Linked DNA regions of Homo sapiens: region 2 is linked to region 1. Evidence: fine-mapped expression QTL. Tissue or cell type: whole blood. Region 1 holds a variant in brackets; the other region holds the start of a gene. All regions are shown on one strand. Distances are from middle to middle.

Region 1 (8,108 bases):
TTTAATGGTTGCCTGAATTGTGCCCAGCATTTCCTTTTAAGTTGTTAATTATCTGGAATGTTACTTTTAGTGTGTGAACAAACCTGTCTTTGTTTGTAAGGCTTCATCTTAAATTGGGAGAAATCAGCATTAACAACTCCACAGTTTGGGAAGGTACATATTTAGAAAGGAAATTTAGTTTTAAGCATTTTTATCATCTGTTGATTTAAGGCCTTCTCTCTTATTTTTGCCCTTTTTACACTTTCAGACACGCGTAGGTTGAGCGTTCCTTTCTTCCTGACACGCACAGAGGCTGGCAGAATGGCACATACAAATACATGCAGTTCTTAAGTGCCAAAATCCCCATTTAGTTTTCCTATAGTCTGGAAAAAATCAAAAACTTGTTGGTATTCACAGATGCTATTACTGTATAATTTTTTCAGTCAGTTTTATTTAAGCAGAAATATATTGTCGGTAGCAGTAGATTTAAAACTGGCAGCATCGTTTCTGTGCTTAGAAGTTGGTGCATTCATTGAAGCAAGAGAAAAGGGAAGCATTAGCTGCTCATTAAAATTGAATTCATGGTGGAGGAATTGAAAAGCGTGCCTGTGGTAATCCCTTACCACTCTGCTGACTTGTTTCTTTTTACAATCTTAGTTCAGTTCATTGTCGTTTTCCCTTATATTTTTCTCTAAGTTTGTGATCTTTTATCTTTCTGTCAGAGTATTTTCAGCCAGTGGTCTAACTTAGCATTAGAGTTTTTTAGTTCTAATAAATACGGTTTTTGTTTAAAACACAATGTAAAGTAACATATTTTTGTTTTAAATTGAAGTATATAGGTAAAATCTTTTGTCATATCCTTATATTTCTTTGCAAATCGAGATTTCAGATATCTAAACCTTAGTTAATTCAGGATATAAATTGTGAGTAATCGCTTTCATTTGTACTTCATTCTGTATGTTCAGTTCAGATCCCTTTAACAATTGCTTCTGTTTGATTTTTTTCCTAATTATTCCTCTGTTATGTGGCCTCAGAGAAAGAGAAGAGTTTTATTTTGAGGATGAAGTGAAGGAAAAGGGAATCTTCTACCTTTATTTTTTCCACTAATCATTTGTAAACCCATAGTTCCAGCATCTACTAACTTAGAAGTTTACTTCTCTAACTGGTATAATTACCCTAACTGCTCCAGGTTGTTTACTGTGTTCTCATGAAATAAGGAGACAGTTAATGAGAAAGCAGGATAATTTAGCCATAGAAGGAATATTTGGAGATGGTTGTAGATTATCTAGAGTCAGTACACACCATCTATTGTTTAAGGTTTTTTGCATACTTTATTAAAGTATTTTTATTACTTTTAACAATATTTAAAACAAAAGGATTTTCTGAGTAGACTTGTCTTTAACATGTCTGGATGAAAAGTATAATTCTGCTTCATATCCCTTTTTGTGGGTATGTACTTTTTGTAGTGGGGACTTGCTGGGATAGGTATTAGAATAGATGATCCATTTGCCAATTCTCTGGACTACACAGGAATAACTTTTAATTTAGTTTATTTATATTCTGCTCATTTAGAAAATTTACTATGCCATTTTACTAAAATAACCATTTAGGGTATAAAATACATGTGAGGTGAATTATGTGGTTATATAAGTTGTATCTCAATGAAGCTATTAATTAAACTAAATTTTAAAATGTGGAAATCCAGGCAAAGAAGAGGAATGGCGTTTGTCTTTGTTTTTCAGAGGTTTAGTGTCATTCACCTAGAAATTAGTGCCGCTTTAGAAGTAACTACATTGGAACAAAAAGTACTTTTTTAATATGCTTTCTCTGGATTTTGTCTTAATGGTTTTTCAGTATTATTTTATACACAGCATTTTATTCATTATTGGGCCAATTCTGGAGCTAAATGTAGTGGTAAGATGTATTCAGGAGATTTTATAATTGTTTCTGCGGGAGAACACAGTAGAGCATAAGTAATTGGAAATAAGTAAAGAATAGGCCAGGCGTGGTTGCTCAGGCCTGTAATCCCAGCAATTTAGGAGGCTGAGGTGGGTGGATCACCTGAGGTCAGGACTTTGAGACCAGCCTGGCCAAAATGGTGAAACCCCATCTCTACTAAAAGTACAAAAATTAGCCGGGCATGGTGGCAGGTGCCTGTAATTCCAGCTACTTGGGAGGCTGAGGTAGGAGAATCACTTGAACCCCAGAGGTGGAGGTTGCAATGAGCCGAGATTGTGCCATTGCACTCCAGCCTGGGCAACAAAAGTGAAACTCTGTCTCAAAAAAATAAAAAGACAAGAAGTAAAGAATAAAAATGGCAAGACAAGAGGCAGTGAGAAGAGGTGATGAGTCTTTCTTTTTTTAGAGTTAGTCTACTTTGTGTTCCCTGCTAGTGAGTCTGTGCCTATGGGCTTACATATGGACATAAGTTTGTGTAAGAATTATATTTTGTTCTATCCTAAGTGGCAGCTCTCAAACCTTTTCAGCCAGGGACCCTTTTTAGCATCGCCAATCCTTCTGGCTTGAGAATTTTCTATGTGTTTCTTTAGTCAGGATTTTTTTCCCATTCTCCAGTTTTTAGTGCCCTTTTTCAATATTGTAGACAGTTGTCATTTTAAGCTTTTTTCTTTCCTTTATTAGTACAAATTCAGGTAGTAAAATATTTTAGTAATTCATATTATTAAGTACCAATTTTCTGAATACTACTTTGAGCATTACACAAAGCATGATGTGGCGTGCCATTTACTCTGAGTTCTACTTTACTATTCATTTGTATTTCTATCTCTTATCTGCAGGTATGGCATTTCAAATATAGATACAACCATTGAAGGAACGTCAGATGACCTGACTGTTGTAGATGCAGCTTCACTAAGACGACAGGTATTTAGTGTACCAAATAAGATATATTTCTCAGTTATATTCATACAATATTTTAAAGTGATAGTTCTCAACATTTTATTATTTTCTCTCCTGTGGGACTATCAAACTAGTAAGCCATCATTGATTTTCTCATTTTGATTAAAGATATATTAAACTACCATTTACATGTTTTGATCACCGTAAAACAGTATTACCAAGATAGATTAATGTAATTCTGGCCAGTAACAAAGAATCTTTAGCAAACCAGTACAGCCATCAGTTGCTTGTTTGGCTTTTGAAATGTGGAACAATTACTTTGGAACCTTTGTTACTGTGTTTAATAACTCCATTTTGGAAACCGCTCCTTGCAGCTTGCACAGC[A/G]TCCCTGCATACGTATTTCCTGTATTCTGTAATAAATCCTTTCTTAGAACTGCAGTTGCACATGCATATTTTTTAATATGTACTCCCACAGCCTCGAGTATCACACAGACATACACACATGTGAAGAAGGCATAGTTGGTTTTCTCATTGCGTCTATACCAAATAGATATAGAGGGAAATTGGATTAAATAAGATATTTTTAGGTGAAGATCAGTAGGAGAACACAAGCTTTAGCAGGTGGTTGTTCAGCCCTGGGATTTTCACAGTAAGGGCTAACAGCAAGGATGGTACTGTCAGCCAGCAGCATTTCCAGCAGCTGGGGAATTAGCCTTCAGGCCTGAAGGGTTTGGGTGCCATATCCCAAGGCCCCCTACAGTAGATTATTTTATTGGATTGTCTCAGTAACTCAGAGGTGGACAGAGAAGGCGGTTATGCCAGGTTCAAGATGAACAACTGAGGTTGAGTGACAAGTTCATAGGAGAGGCATAGAAAGGGGAAGGAGTCCCGTATTCTTTCTGCTGTGGTAAGCCTGCCAAAATGCATACTGAGTCTTTTCTGCCAGAATAACAGTAGGTAACCGCTTCCTCACCTCACTATGTAATCAAGTTAGGAAGGAAATACACCCTTCCTAACTCAGAAATCTGAAGAAGGGAAAGGGAAAGGATGTTTAAGTGAATTTAAGCTGTCATGAATGACATGTTTTTCTATGTGTAGTTGTGTTTATTTTGCTCCAAATGAAACTTTCCATGTTTGTAATAATACTTTTGTTGACAAATTATTATACTACTTACTTTATAAGAATCTGATTGCCCTATTCATTAAAGCCTCTATATTATATTTTTTGTGTGTTTGTTTTTCACTTAGATAATCAAACTAAATAGACGTCTACAACTTCTGGAAGAGGAGAACAAAGAACGTGCTAAAAGAGAAATGGTCATGTATTCAATTACTGTAGCTTTCTGGCTGCTTAATAGCTGGCTCTGGTTTCGCCGCTAGAGGTAACATCAGCCCTCAAAAATACTGTCTCAACAGCTGGAAATATAAAAGATTTGCAAACTTCTTTGTTTCTGTCTCTGCATTGTATGCCATTTTATAGTCCACACCCTGAAAATGTATTTCTTCCAGAAAGTCTGGAGGAAGGACCTATATTTGTAGAAGTAAAGGTATATTCTGTCACTCAGCTGTATTCACGTCTGAGCAGTTCTGCAGTAACACCTGCTTAAAATTCTCCCTTTGCATGTTTTGTAAATAGGCTCCAGTTTTGTTTTTTAAAAGGAATTTATTTTTTGCCTCATCAGTCCACCCAACTGATTCTGAATGGGAGAGAGTCTGTAGAGAATTGATTCAGAAAAGTGTCTGTGAAAGAAAAACAATTATTTTGTCCTGTTTCTCAAACAGTGTTAAGCAGTTTTGTTAATAGACATTTTTGCATCGACACTTCAACATTAACACTTTCAAAGTCATGGTCTGGTGCCAGATTTAAGAAACTCGAACCACCTAATATTTCATAACCTTCTTCATTAGGTACTTGTACAGATTAATTTCTAACATTGCAGCAGTTTCATATGTGTGCAATATGTGCATTCTTTCATTTTAGTTTTGCACTTGGTTTTCTATAAAGTACGTTTTTACTCAGTTCATGCGTGAACAATTTAAAAAACGACAGAATAAGGTACAAATGTAGTGTATTTAATAAACTGTCAACCAAAGAAGTATTTGTCTGTTGAAGGATTTTATTTCATCATTTGTGCAATCAGCTACATTTTGTATCATATTACCTTATGAGTCTTCCCGTCTCAGAGCAAGTAATACAATTAATGACCTGGTAGGTAGCAAGAACCTGCTGTGCTTCCTTTCAGACCTTCATCCTGGTGGTGGTGGCTGTTGGTTGCATTGTAGGTGGTTTTCTAATTTATAATATCTATAAAGTGGTTCAGGTTTAAATACCTTGAGTTGTGTATACTTTTTTTTTTTTGAGATGGAGTCTCGCTCTGTTGCTGATGCTGGAGTCCCGTGGCATGATCTCAGCTCACTGCAACCTCCACCTCCCAGGTTCAAGTGATCCTTCTGCCTCAGCCTCCAGAGTAGCTGGGATTACAGGCGCTGGCCACCACACCCAACTAATTTTTGTATTTTTAGTAGATACAGGGTTTCGCCATGTTGGCCAGGCTGGTCTCGAACTCCTGACCTCAGGTGGTCTGCCTGCCTCAGCCTCCCAAAGTGCTGGGATTACAGCCACTGCGCCCAGCCAGAGTTGTATATACTTTTTTCATGGCAGTATTTATTTGCTAATTATATATAGGTGAATTTAAATCTCAAGGCTGGGTGTGGTGGCTCACGCCCGTAATCCTAATACTTTGGGAGGCCTAGGCGGGTGGATCACTTGAAGTCAGGAGTTCGAGACCAGCCTGGCCAATACAGTGAAACCCCATCTCTACCAAAAATACAAAAATTAGCCAGGTGTGGTGGCAGGCATGGTGGCAATAGCTGTAATCCCAGCTACTCAGGAGGCTGAGGCAGAAGAATCACTTGAACCCAGAAGGCAGAGGTTGCAGTAAGCTGAGATCATGCCACTGTACTCCAGCCTGAGTGACAGAGCCAAACTCCGTCTCAAAAAAAAACTAAAAATTTAAAAGTAAATCTCAAAAGAATTAAACCAAGTGAAGCCAAGTGCTAGACAGTTTTAGCTCTCAAAACTTATATTTCCCCATTTTCGGTTCAGAAATGGGTAGAATTCAGTTAGGTGCAACATTCTCCACACATCTTTGGTATCTTTCTTCCAAGGCAGGGAGTTTGGGGAAAGGCAGTTGAGGAAATTCCTTGGATAGAGTTAGATTTAGCATTTCCGTTCTTGCTTCTTATCCCTCTAAAATAATATCAAGACAAAGATTCTTCTCTGTACTTAGAAGTTTTCTGACTTTTGGTAATGATGCAACTATATTAATTCTAGATTTATGTATACCAGAAGGTAATTTCTGTGGTTATCCTCCAAATTGAAATCACAAAAATGAAGAAAAATGATGGATAAGGTTAGTATCTTTTGATAAACAGACATGAAAAGGATTCCACAAAGGTCAAAAAATGAAATAAAAGCAGGAATACTGAGAGAGAAGTGCGGAAGCCCTTTTTTTCCCTCATGATTCTTACCAAAGAATGGACACTTGGAGCTTTCTCCCTTAATGATTGTGCAAGGGGTAGAAGATCGACTTCCCTACCTCAGGCAGGCACCAGCTGTAACAGGAGACTCGTGAATGAAGCTAAGACCCCAACAGACGGTGAATGAAAACTCTGTTTACAGTGCAAAAGGGGACAACCAAGAAACCTGCCTTACCTGACCTTGTCACATATCTAGAAGTAGAAAAGCTTGAATCTCTCTAACTCCAAAGTTAGGATCTCTATTAAACACCTGTGTACTTCCCCTAAAAATTGTTAATTACTGTTGAAATATATTTTGGAGTTGAGAAGAACAAATTAGTTCCTGGTTAGTATAACCAGATATTTGAGCTGAGCCTTTCAACAAGCAGAGAAAGAACAAGAAAATATTCCAGGTGCAGATGATAGAGGGAGAAATGGATACAGTCAGGAGCCAAAGTCGTATCATACAACTAAGTATAGCAAATATATTGTTGCACTACTGAAAGTGCACCCTTCTCCCCACTTCTAGTAATTATGGTTGAAGTATGTGCAGGTTGTTTACACTTTGAAGGATAACATCATGGAAGTAGTATATTTTCAAGAGAGCTTTCCTTTTTCCTTCCTTCCTGCATGAATGTGTGTTTCCAGCTCCTTAACTATAGTGATTGCCCAGCCCTTATCCAAAATTCTTTGGACCAGAAGTATTTTGAATTTCAGAGTTTTTCAGATTTTCAAGTATTTACATATACATAATGAGATATCTTGAGGATGGGACCCAAGTCTAAACATGAAATTCATTTATATTTCATACATACCCTCTACACATAACCTAAAGATAATTTTATACAATATTTCAAATTTTGTGTATGAAACAAAGTTTGTGTATGCTGAACCATCAGAAAGCAAAAAGCAAAGATGTCATAGTGATATCTCAGCCACGCATGTGGACAGTCGGGTTTTTTGCCATCACTATCATTCCTGACTCTGAGTGTATATGCTGCCAATAAACAGTCATTTTTTCTTAACACTTTTTCACACATAAATACTTAACATTAAAAAATGACACACTATTAATACAGTGAAAAAACTGCGTTCAAGTAACTAAGCAGCACAGGGGCATCACCAGATACTGCACCAGCTGTTAGACAACAGCCACAACCAAGAACAGCCACGGCAAGTTTCCTGTCCCCACTGGCGGTACTGTTGGAGTAAAGATTACTGGACACTATTTTTTTCAGTGAGAAGAAACATGAGAAGCAGTTGAGAGGCTAGGAAGTGGATCCTGTGGAGACGAGGCATTCTTCTCAGTGGCTTTTTAAAGTATTTCTTCCAGAGTCATCTACCTCATGAACAATGTTTTTGTCTGAGAAACCTCTCTTTGCTTTTATAAACTGACGTGATTTCTTGTTCTGTTTTGAATACACACTGCTCTAGTCCTTCAAGAAGCCCATCACGTATTTTCACCATATAATCTGTAGGCACTTTTTCTGCAATGTTAATGTCTTCACTATTAGGATCACCTTTGATTCAGAACCGTTCAGCTATTTCACCATGGGTTGATGAACAACTGGAGACCCATCATCGATGTTAAAAACTTCAACATCCACTTCTTCCAGCTTACTGACGGACTCTGAAGGTATATTTTTTACATATATAAGGAGGTCAGACATCATTTTTTTTTCTCACTTGACATAGGGATTCCTTCCAAGTCACCACCTTGTTTATCATCATCACTGAACATAGTTGCAGGCCAG
Region 2 (8,094 bases), 32 kb before region 1:
TTGCAGGGAGGTGTGGGGGGAGAGGCGCAGGCAGGAACCAGGGCTGTGTGCAGTGCTCGCAGGCCAGCACGCGTTCCGTGTGGGTGCGGGCTTGGCAGGCCCCACGCTCAAAGTGGCCGGCCAGCACCGCTGGCCCCAGGCAGTGAGGGGCTTAGCACTCAGGCCAGCAGCTGCAGAGGGTGCGCCGGGTCCCCCAGCACTACCAGCCCACCTGCGCCACGCTTGGATTCTCACCGGGCCTCAGCCACCTCCCCACGGGGCAGGGCTCAGGACCTGCAGCTCACCATGCCCGAGCCACCCCCACCATGGGCTCCCTCACAGCCTGAGCCTCCCTGATGGGCACCGCCCCCTGCTCCACGGCGCCTGGTCCCATCGACCGCACAAGAGCTGAGGTGTGCATGTGCGCAGCACGGGACTGGAGGGCAGCTCTGCCCACAGCCCCAGCACAGGATCCACTAGGCAAAGCCAACTGGACTCTAGAGTCAGGTGGGGTCTTGGAGAACTTTTATGTCTAGCTGGAAGATTGTATATGCACCAATCAGCACTCTGTGTCTAGGTCGGGGTTTGTGGATGCACCAATCAGCACTCTGTATCTAGCTAATCTGGTGGGGACTTGGAGAACTTTTACGTCTAGCTAGAGGATTGTAAATGCACCAATCAGCACTCTGTGTCTAGCTCAAGGTTTGTAAACACACCAATCAGTGCTCTGTGTGTAGCTAAAGGTTTGTAAACGCACCAATCAGTGCTCTGTGTCTAGCTAATCCAGTGGGGACTTGGAGAACTTTTATGTCTAGCTAGACGATTGTAGATGCATCAATCAGCACTCTGTCTCTAGCTAAAGGTTTGTAAACATACCAATCAGTGCTCTGTGTCTAGCTAATCTAGTGGGGACTTGGAGAACTTTTATGTCTAGCTAGAGGATTGTAAATGCATCAATCAGCACTCTCTGTCTAGCTAAATGTTTGTAAACGCAACAATCAGTGCTCTGTGTCTAGTAATCTGGTGGGGACTTGGAGAACTTTTATGTCTAGCTGGAGGATTGTAAATGCACCAATCAGCACTCTGTGTCTAGCTCAGGGATTGTAAATGCACCAATCAGCACCCTGTCAAAATGGACCAATCAGCTTTCTGTAAAATGGACCAATCAGCTCTCTGTAAAATGGACCAATCAGCAGGATGTGGGTGGGGGCCAGATAAAGGAATAAAAGCAGGCTGACTGGGCCAGCAGCAGCAACCTGCTGGGGTCCCCTTTCATGTTGTAGAAGCTTTGTTCTTTTGCTCTTTGCAATAAATCTTGCTGCTGCTCACTCTTTGGGTCCACGCTGCCTTTATGAGCTGTAACACTCACCGCGAAGGTCTGCAGCTTCACTCCTGAAGCCAGCAAGACCACAAACCCACCAGGAGGGACAAATAACTCTGGACAGGAGGAATGAACAACTCCAGATGTGCTGCCTTTAAGAGCTGTAACAGTCACCGCAAAGGTCTGCAGCTCCACTCCTGAAGCCAGCAAGACCATGAGCCCACCAGAAGGAAGAAACTCCGGACACATCTGAACATCTGAAGAAACAAACTCCGGACACATGACACACCATCTTTAAGAACTGTAAGACTCACCGCAAGTATTCGCAGCTTCATTCTTGAAGTCGGCGAGACCAAGAACCCACCAATTCCGGACACAGAAGGAAGGAAAACAAAGGGGAAAGCAGATTCTCTACAGAATGTGGATTTTTCCCATAAGAGACTTTGCAGGACAATTTCAAGGTAGGGCAAGGAAAGATATTTTTGGGTAAAATATTTTTATTTTCTTCCTTATTATGCCAGAGTCAGATTGGAAAGTAAGTCATGATATACACGGTTAAATAAAACCCATCTGATGTGCATTTATGGTTTGGAGAACATGACTCCCCAAACCCCTTAGATAGGAATTTGAGCAAGATAAAAAAATCAGAGCTTAGTCCTCAGAACCAACCTAATGCATGATCTCCCAACTTGATCTCTATCTTCCCACAAAAGATTGACTTGGAATGACTTATTATTCCTAAAAATCAATCTATTCTTAAAGGCTTATTTGTCTCTGTAGGGTAGTTGTTAAGAGTTAAAGAAAGAAGAGAGAAACACAAAAAGTGGCTCAACAATCAAGGATAGGTTTATTTTAGAGAATAAACCTGAGAGGGGCTTCTGGCCAATTTTGGTCAGGAGCACTCTCTCTTACAGACTAAGAGTATTTAAGGGTTTAGGGTGAGAGAGCTTATCACAGGCTTGGAATATTTCTGCTTGGAGGAGAAGTTTATTACAGGGTTGGAATGTCTCTGGTTGGAGGGGAGGGGTTATCTTGGGGCTGACATCGCTCCGGTCAGAGGGAAGGTTATCTTGGGGCTGACATCGCTCGGTCAGAGGGAAGGTTATCTTGGGGCTGGCATGTGTCTGGTGGGAGAGGGGTTTATCTTAGAGTTAGAATGTTTCTGGTCGGAGGTGTCATTTGTGGTTTGTGGTCATGCTGACAGCCATTAGGCTGATGCCCTCTGGGTTGGATTTAGGTGGTTTTTGATCAAGGGGCACTTTAAAATGGCAGTGCTTCTGCTCTGTCAATAGTAGGATATGCCAACCCAAAATATGGCACTTTGGCATAAAGATTATTTTCGAGTCAAAGGCACTTAAAAAAAAAATGCAAAAAGAGCACTGTGGCTTTCCTTTTTCCTTCCTGAAAGCAGGAGATAAAACTTCCGTATGAAAGGTGCCCTCCCTGTATAAGGAGGAAGGGAGATGTTCTCAACACCAGAGACATGGAGTCAAAGCTGAGCTGTATCTGCACAAACTTACCGATTTTCATTTCCACTTTGTTACAACAACCTTTATCTTCTTAGTCACTTCTGCATTAACTGCACTAACCCAAATCTGTTTGTTTTCTCACATTTTCACAATTTACTACTCTTTTTAGCCTTCCCTAGAAAAATGGAGACTCAAAAGCACTTAGGGTCCAACTGTTAATTTGGGTCTCCATTTTTCTAGGGAAGGCTCCAATGTAAATGTAAAAATTACTAAATAAAATTTGTATGCTTTCCTCCTGTTATGTTTTATGTCTCTATTTTACGTCAGTGGAGACTAAGCTCTGATTTTTTTTTTAATCTTGCTCAAATTCCTATCTAAGGGGCCTAGGGATTCATGCCCTACAATCCATAAATTCTCATCAGATGGGTTTTATTTAACCCTATATATTGTGACTTACTTTCCAATCTGACACTGGCATAACGAGACAAGAAACAAAATCAAAATATTTTACCGCAAAACATTTTTTTTAGTTTTTGACATATCTTGAAACGGCTCTGCAAAGCTGTCCTTTGTTGGGGGAAAATCTGCATCTACATAGAATTTCTATTAACATAGCTAGATCATTTTCTTCCAGGTCCTCCCAATCCTAAAGAGATTACGTAAGAATCTAGCACCTTTTAAAGATCTGAATAGGAAACATTTGTCATCCATTGTCTCTAAGGGCAGCCACTATAAGACTTCAAAAGAACCTTGGTCTCCACAATCTTTTATTTTAACCTCAACATTTCCTTTCTATGGGTCCCAGGTCTTCAACTGTCAACCAGAAAATGTTTAAATTTACCTACAGCCTTGGAAGCCCCTGCTTTGAGTTGTCCCACCTTTCTGAACCAAACCAATGTAGTTCTTAAATTTATTTGATTGATGTCTCATGCCTCCCTAAAATACATAAAACCAAGCTGCGCCCCAACCACCTTGGACACATGTTCTCAGGACCTCCTGAGGGCTCTGTCACGGGCCATGGTCACTCACATTTGGCTCAGAATAAATCTCTTCAAATATTTTAGAGTTTGACTCTTTTCCTCATCAGTTTAATTCTTAGGCCCAGCCAAGACCCCAAGAGGGGAGAGGAAATATTTTCACTTTCCCTACACCAGTGTTAAGAAGCCCAAGAACGCAATTCAGAGGGCTTCCCAAATCATTTTGAAGAATGGTAACATCTCTAGAATATCAATTAGATCGTAGGGGAGTACATAAGTCATGTGTACACCTTTAGGTGTTTGTGAAAACCAAGGCATATAAAATATCACATTATTTGGCCTCAGTACATTCCCATACTGACAAGCACTGTACCATTTTTCCCCCGCTCTAAGCAAGGGCTTCCTGGGGGGAAGAGTCTGTGGTTGGGTGTTCAGAAGCAGAGAGTGCTCTCCCAAAGCTAAACGATGCCGCCAACTACTGTGAAACTTAACTTCCCCTCTCCCGGAATTCTCATGGAAGACAAGGTCTGATCAACCGAGGGCTTAAGAAGTATCAAATTGGAACTCATGGAATCACTGGCGGAGCTGATTTACATATGAGAATTCCTAAGCCTCACAGCATAGAAATTTTCATGCCAGATGGTCCTGAAAAAGTTGTTTTAATTGGCTACCAAAGGTTTACCTTGCAAACACCAAGTTCTTAAAGATTACAAAATCTAATAAAGCCGAAGTGTGAATTAAACTTAACCGCAAGAGGAGTCACCTGCGGTCACCTCGTTTCGCCCACAACAAAGATGTCTGCGCATCGCTTACCGTGGAGCCGTTCCAGTGCGTGGGCCACGCGTCCGCCCTTTTCCGCGTCACATGACCACGAACACTCTTCCGCTACGGCTCCCAGAAGGGGCCAGCCCGCGCCTTTCGCGCTTCTGCCCTGGCCCTCTGCGGGCCGCTCCGCCGGTGCTGTCCCTGGGCGCCTCCGTGCTCTCAGCCAACCACCTCTGAGAGCGCCCACTCGAGCGCCCCGGGAGCCAGAGGGCGGGGGTCCTCGCCGGGACCCTCCTGTGGGCCCAGGGGTGAGTGTTGACGTCTTCCCGACCCGCGACCTGCCGCCCGAGCTGGCTGCCAGGCCTATCGCCGCCGCCGAGACCCTCCGGCCAACAGGGACCCGCGGTGGCCCCGGCCCCCCCGGTAGTGTCTCCCTGACCCGAGTCCCGTCCCCGGGCCTCTTGCCTTCAACCCTGGTCTTTCCTCCTCCCCGGGACCTTGAGTCCCCGAGGAGAGCGAGGGAGAGGAGCGTCTTCTGCAGGTGTTTTTGGGCGAACCTCTTCACCTTGTGTGGTTCGGCGTCTCCTTTTGTGTATTAACCCGGACTTTTCCGACTGGAAAATAGGGGTTTGGGAAGCAGCGGGAGTCCCGTGAGCGTGAACGCCGGGCTTTGCAGGTCTTCACTCATCCTTCCCTGCCAAGGCCCTGACACCTTACAGGCTGACCTTAAACCTGCCTTGTTTAAAAGGAGGTTTTTGTGTTGTTTTGTGGCAAGTACATTTTGGAAAAGAAGGGCCTTGTTGGAAGCCCAGGTTGTGGCATCGCGGGTGGCTGCGGGCCACCCTGTCCGTCTGTGAGCATCCCTGCTCGCAGATGTGGCTGCAGGCAGTTGCTCTCGGGTTTCCTTCCAGGAGCTGGGAAGCCGGAGGAAAGCTGCGGTTCCTGTTCCGCCGAGCTTCTGACCTTCCTCTGCAGGACGTGTGCTACTATTACTATCGTAAAAGAACACCCCTGTCTACCTCCCACAAAGTTAGAAGCAAAGGGCATTCTCGAGGGAAGAGCACCCTTTCAAAAGTGACATGTTTTCATTGGAGAACATTAAAGGGGAAAAAAAAAAAAAAGGTTTCTGGCCCTTCTGCCCAAATATAGAACCATTTGTATTCAGGCCTCTCATCCACCGAGAGACTTAAGATGATCACAAATGTTTTGTCTCCCTGCGTGAAAAACATTTTTTCTGCCTCAATTCCGTTGGCTAATGAGAGCCCAAAAGAAAAACCCTTAGGAAAATTAGGACGATTTAGTTATACTTAGTAGTCTTTTCCCATGCAATTAAATTGCTTGGGGGACCTTCTATCTTTTGGTTTCAAAGGCTTGTATATTGGTTTTGCCATTTTTTCCAAAAGGAAATTGTGTTCTCTCCCTTCCTGTCTGATAGAGCTGCCTCCTTTCAGAATTGCAAAGTTTAGTCTTCGCTCTCCTCTCTTCTGGTATTGAAACTTTTCTGTGGGTTCATAACCTTATTTTAAAGTTCATTAATATATAGTTTTAAAAGTTTGCAGTGACTTTTTAAATATAGTTTCTTTGAAAAAGAACTGAAACAGGGTGTGCAGAGTGGCCCATCTGTGTGAACTAGGTCCACGCAGTAGGTAATAAACAACTGGAGGGTTTTTTTTGGTTTGTTTTTGTTTGTTTGTATGTTTGTTTTTGAAAAGTACATAAACATTTGCAACCACAGTCAGTTTGACTCAAGTTGTTTCGGTGACTTCCGAGGCTTTCTGGGTTCCAGTGTTCTAATACAGAAAATGAGAAAGTTGGGCTGGAATCATTGTGTCCCAAAATTGGTACACTTTCCGCTAGTGGCATGTGACTTGACTCTAGGCGGTACGTGGATGAGGATTTTTTTGTAATAGGATGTTTTTGCAATCTGTATTTATATATGTACAGCCATGGTTTAAGGTAGTGATACAAAATTTTCTTTTACAATACTTTTTTGATTTTAAAAAGTCGAGTTAAAAAAATTAACTGTAGCAAAAAGTTAATGTACTCTGTGAATATGGGAAAAAAAAAACCCATGAAGTTGGCAAGTTAGTTACTGGTGTTTGGGAACCACTGGGCTTAGAAAGTAGAAATATGAAATCATCTGTGATTCTAAGAGAGATTTTGCCTCGTTTGTTATGTAACAGAATCACGTACTGGTTGCCTACTGGATTCTAAGGTACAAAACTTCTGGAATTAACATATCAACACCAAATGAGACGTTTATTTATTGCCAAAAGATATTATCAGAAATGCCACAGTCTAACGAGGGAGAAAAAAAATCAGATTTTGATTGGTTTTAAGCAGAAAACCCAATAATTGGGATAATACAGTGTTAAATCTTAGTAGAAATCCAGTTACTTTTTAAATGTAAGTAGTTCAGCTACAGGAGAACTTGGCTTTTTCCAGAAGTTGGCATTTCAGCATCCACCTTTATTTTCTAAGTCACTAGTTTTTTACAAACTCAGATATTCTCGTAAGAAAAGATGTTGCTATAGAATGGAATATAGTAGTGAGACCTATGAGATGTACTACTAGAAAGTTCGTAAGACTGAAATGCAATGAATGGAATGCAGAGAAAGCACATTTCAAGGAGATACTGAGGTTCTAGCCACTTGGTTCTCGTTTATTATTATAAAACTTCAATTTATAATGGCCAAAGGCTATAATCTTTTTGAGGTAGCTTTTTTCAGTGTTAGTTCTGAATATGAGCTTTTGCTATGCTTGAGATACACGCAAGTATTAGAAGAGCATCTCATCTGGAATGATGCACAAAAATTGATTATAAAGGTTGCCTGTGGGAACCTGGGTGGTTAAGGATAGGATTGAAAGTGGGACACTTCCTTTTCTCTGTATAGCTTGCGTACTTTGTACCGAGTACATGCATTACTAGTTCAAAATTTTAACATCGTAAGTGAATGAAAATTTAAACAGGCCGGGCACGGTGGCTCACACCTGTAGTCCCAGCACTTTAGGAGACGAAGGCCAGAGGATTTCTTGAGCCTAGGAGTTTGAGATCAGCCTGAACAACATAATAAGACCCTGTCTCAACAAAAAATACAAAAATTAGCTGGGTGTGGTGGCATATGCCTGTAGTCCCAGCTATTCAGGAAGCTCCATTGCAATCTAGCCCGGGTGACAAAAAAAAAAAAAAAAAAAAAAAAACCAATTCATTTGTTCTTCTTTAACATATATGTGTACCTATATGCATATATATACGTAAGTATTAGATTCATTTAAACTTACGTATTTTTCATCTGCCACATTTTTCTAAATACAAATCAGAAACAATGACAGAGCTAGTCTTTTATATTGCCTTAACTAATGAATAGTTGTAGGACCCCATCTGTGGAACTAAGATTGGTGGTAAGCTTAATTTTTTTCTTTCTTTATTTTCTTACTGGTCTCTTGATGTCAGGTTGTGCATCTTTGTGACTGTTACTATTTGGAGAATTTCCAGTAATGAATCCCTAATAGTGGTTTCATCTAGTTTCTCAATTAGCCCCTGTTTTTCTTCCCCAGGGACAAAAGTGGCTCTCAATCCAGC

What was found. PIP is the estimated chance that this variant, and not a neighbour inherited with it, causes the effect.
Region 2: it holds the start of MFF, and the variant in region 1 is fine-mapped to the expression of MFF in whole blood (INTERVAL, PIP 0.99).

Annotation. Positions count from the first base shown.
Region 1 is chr2:227,352,903-227,361,010 of GRCh38, forward strand. It overlaps MFF (mitochondrial fission factor), which reads left to right. Exons shown (of 9, transcript NM_001277062.2): 8 at 2,775-2,859; 9 at 4,084-4,931. The coding sequence ends at 4,215. Among named protein-coding and RNA genes, the nearest start is that of TM4SF20, 22 kb to the right of the region's middle. The variant A/G (reference allele first, on the strand shown) is at 3,220.
Region 2 is chr2:227,320,609-227,328,702 of GRCh38, forward strand. It overlaps MFF (mitochondrial fission factor), which reads left to right and starts at 4,643. Exons shown (of 9, transcript NM_001277062.2): 1 at 4,643-4,819; 2 at 8,070-8,094. It overlaps MFF-DT (MFF divergent transcript), which reads right to left and starts at 4,556. Exons shown (of 14, transcript NR_102371.1): 1 at 4,510-4,556. RefSeq lists enhancers at 198-726, 4,465-4,514 and a silencer at 4,695-4,984.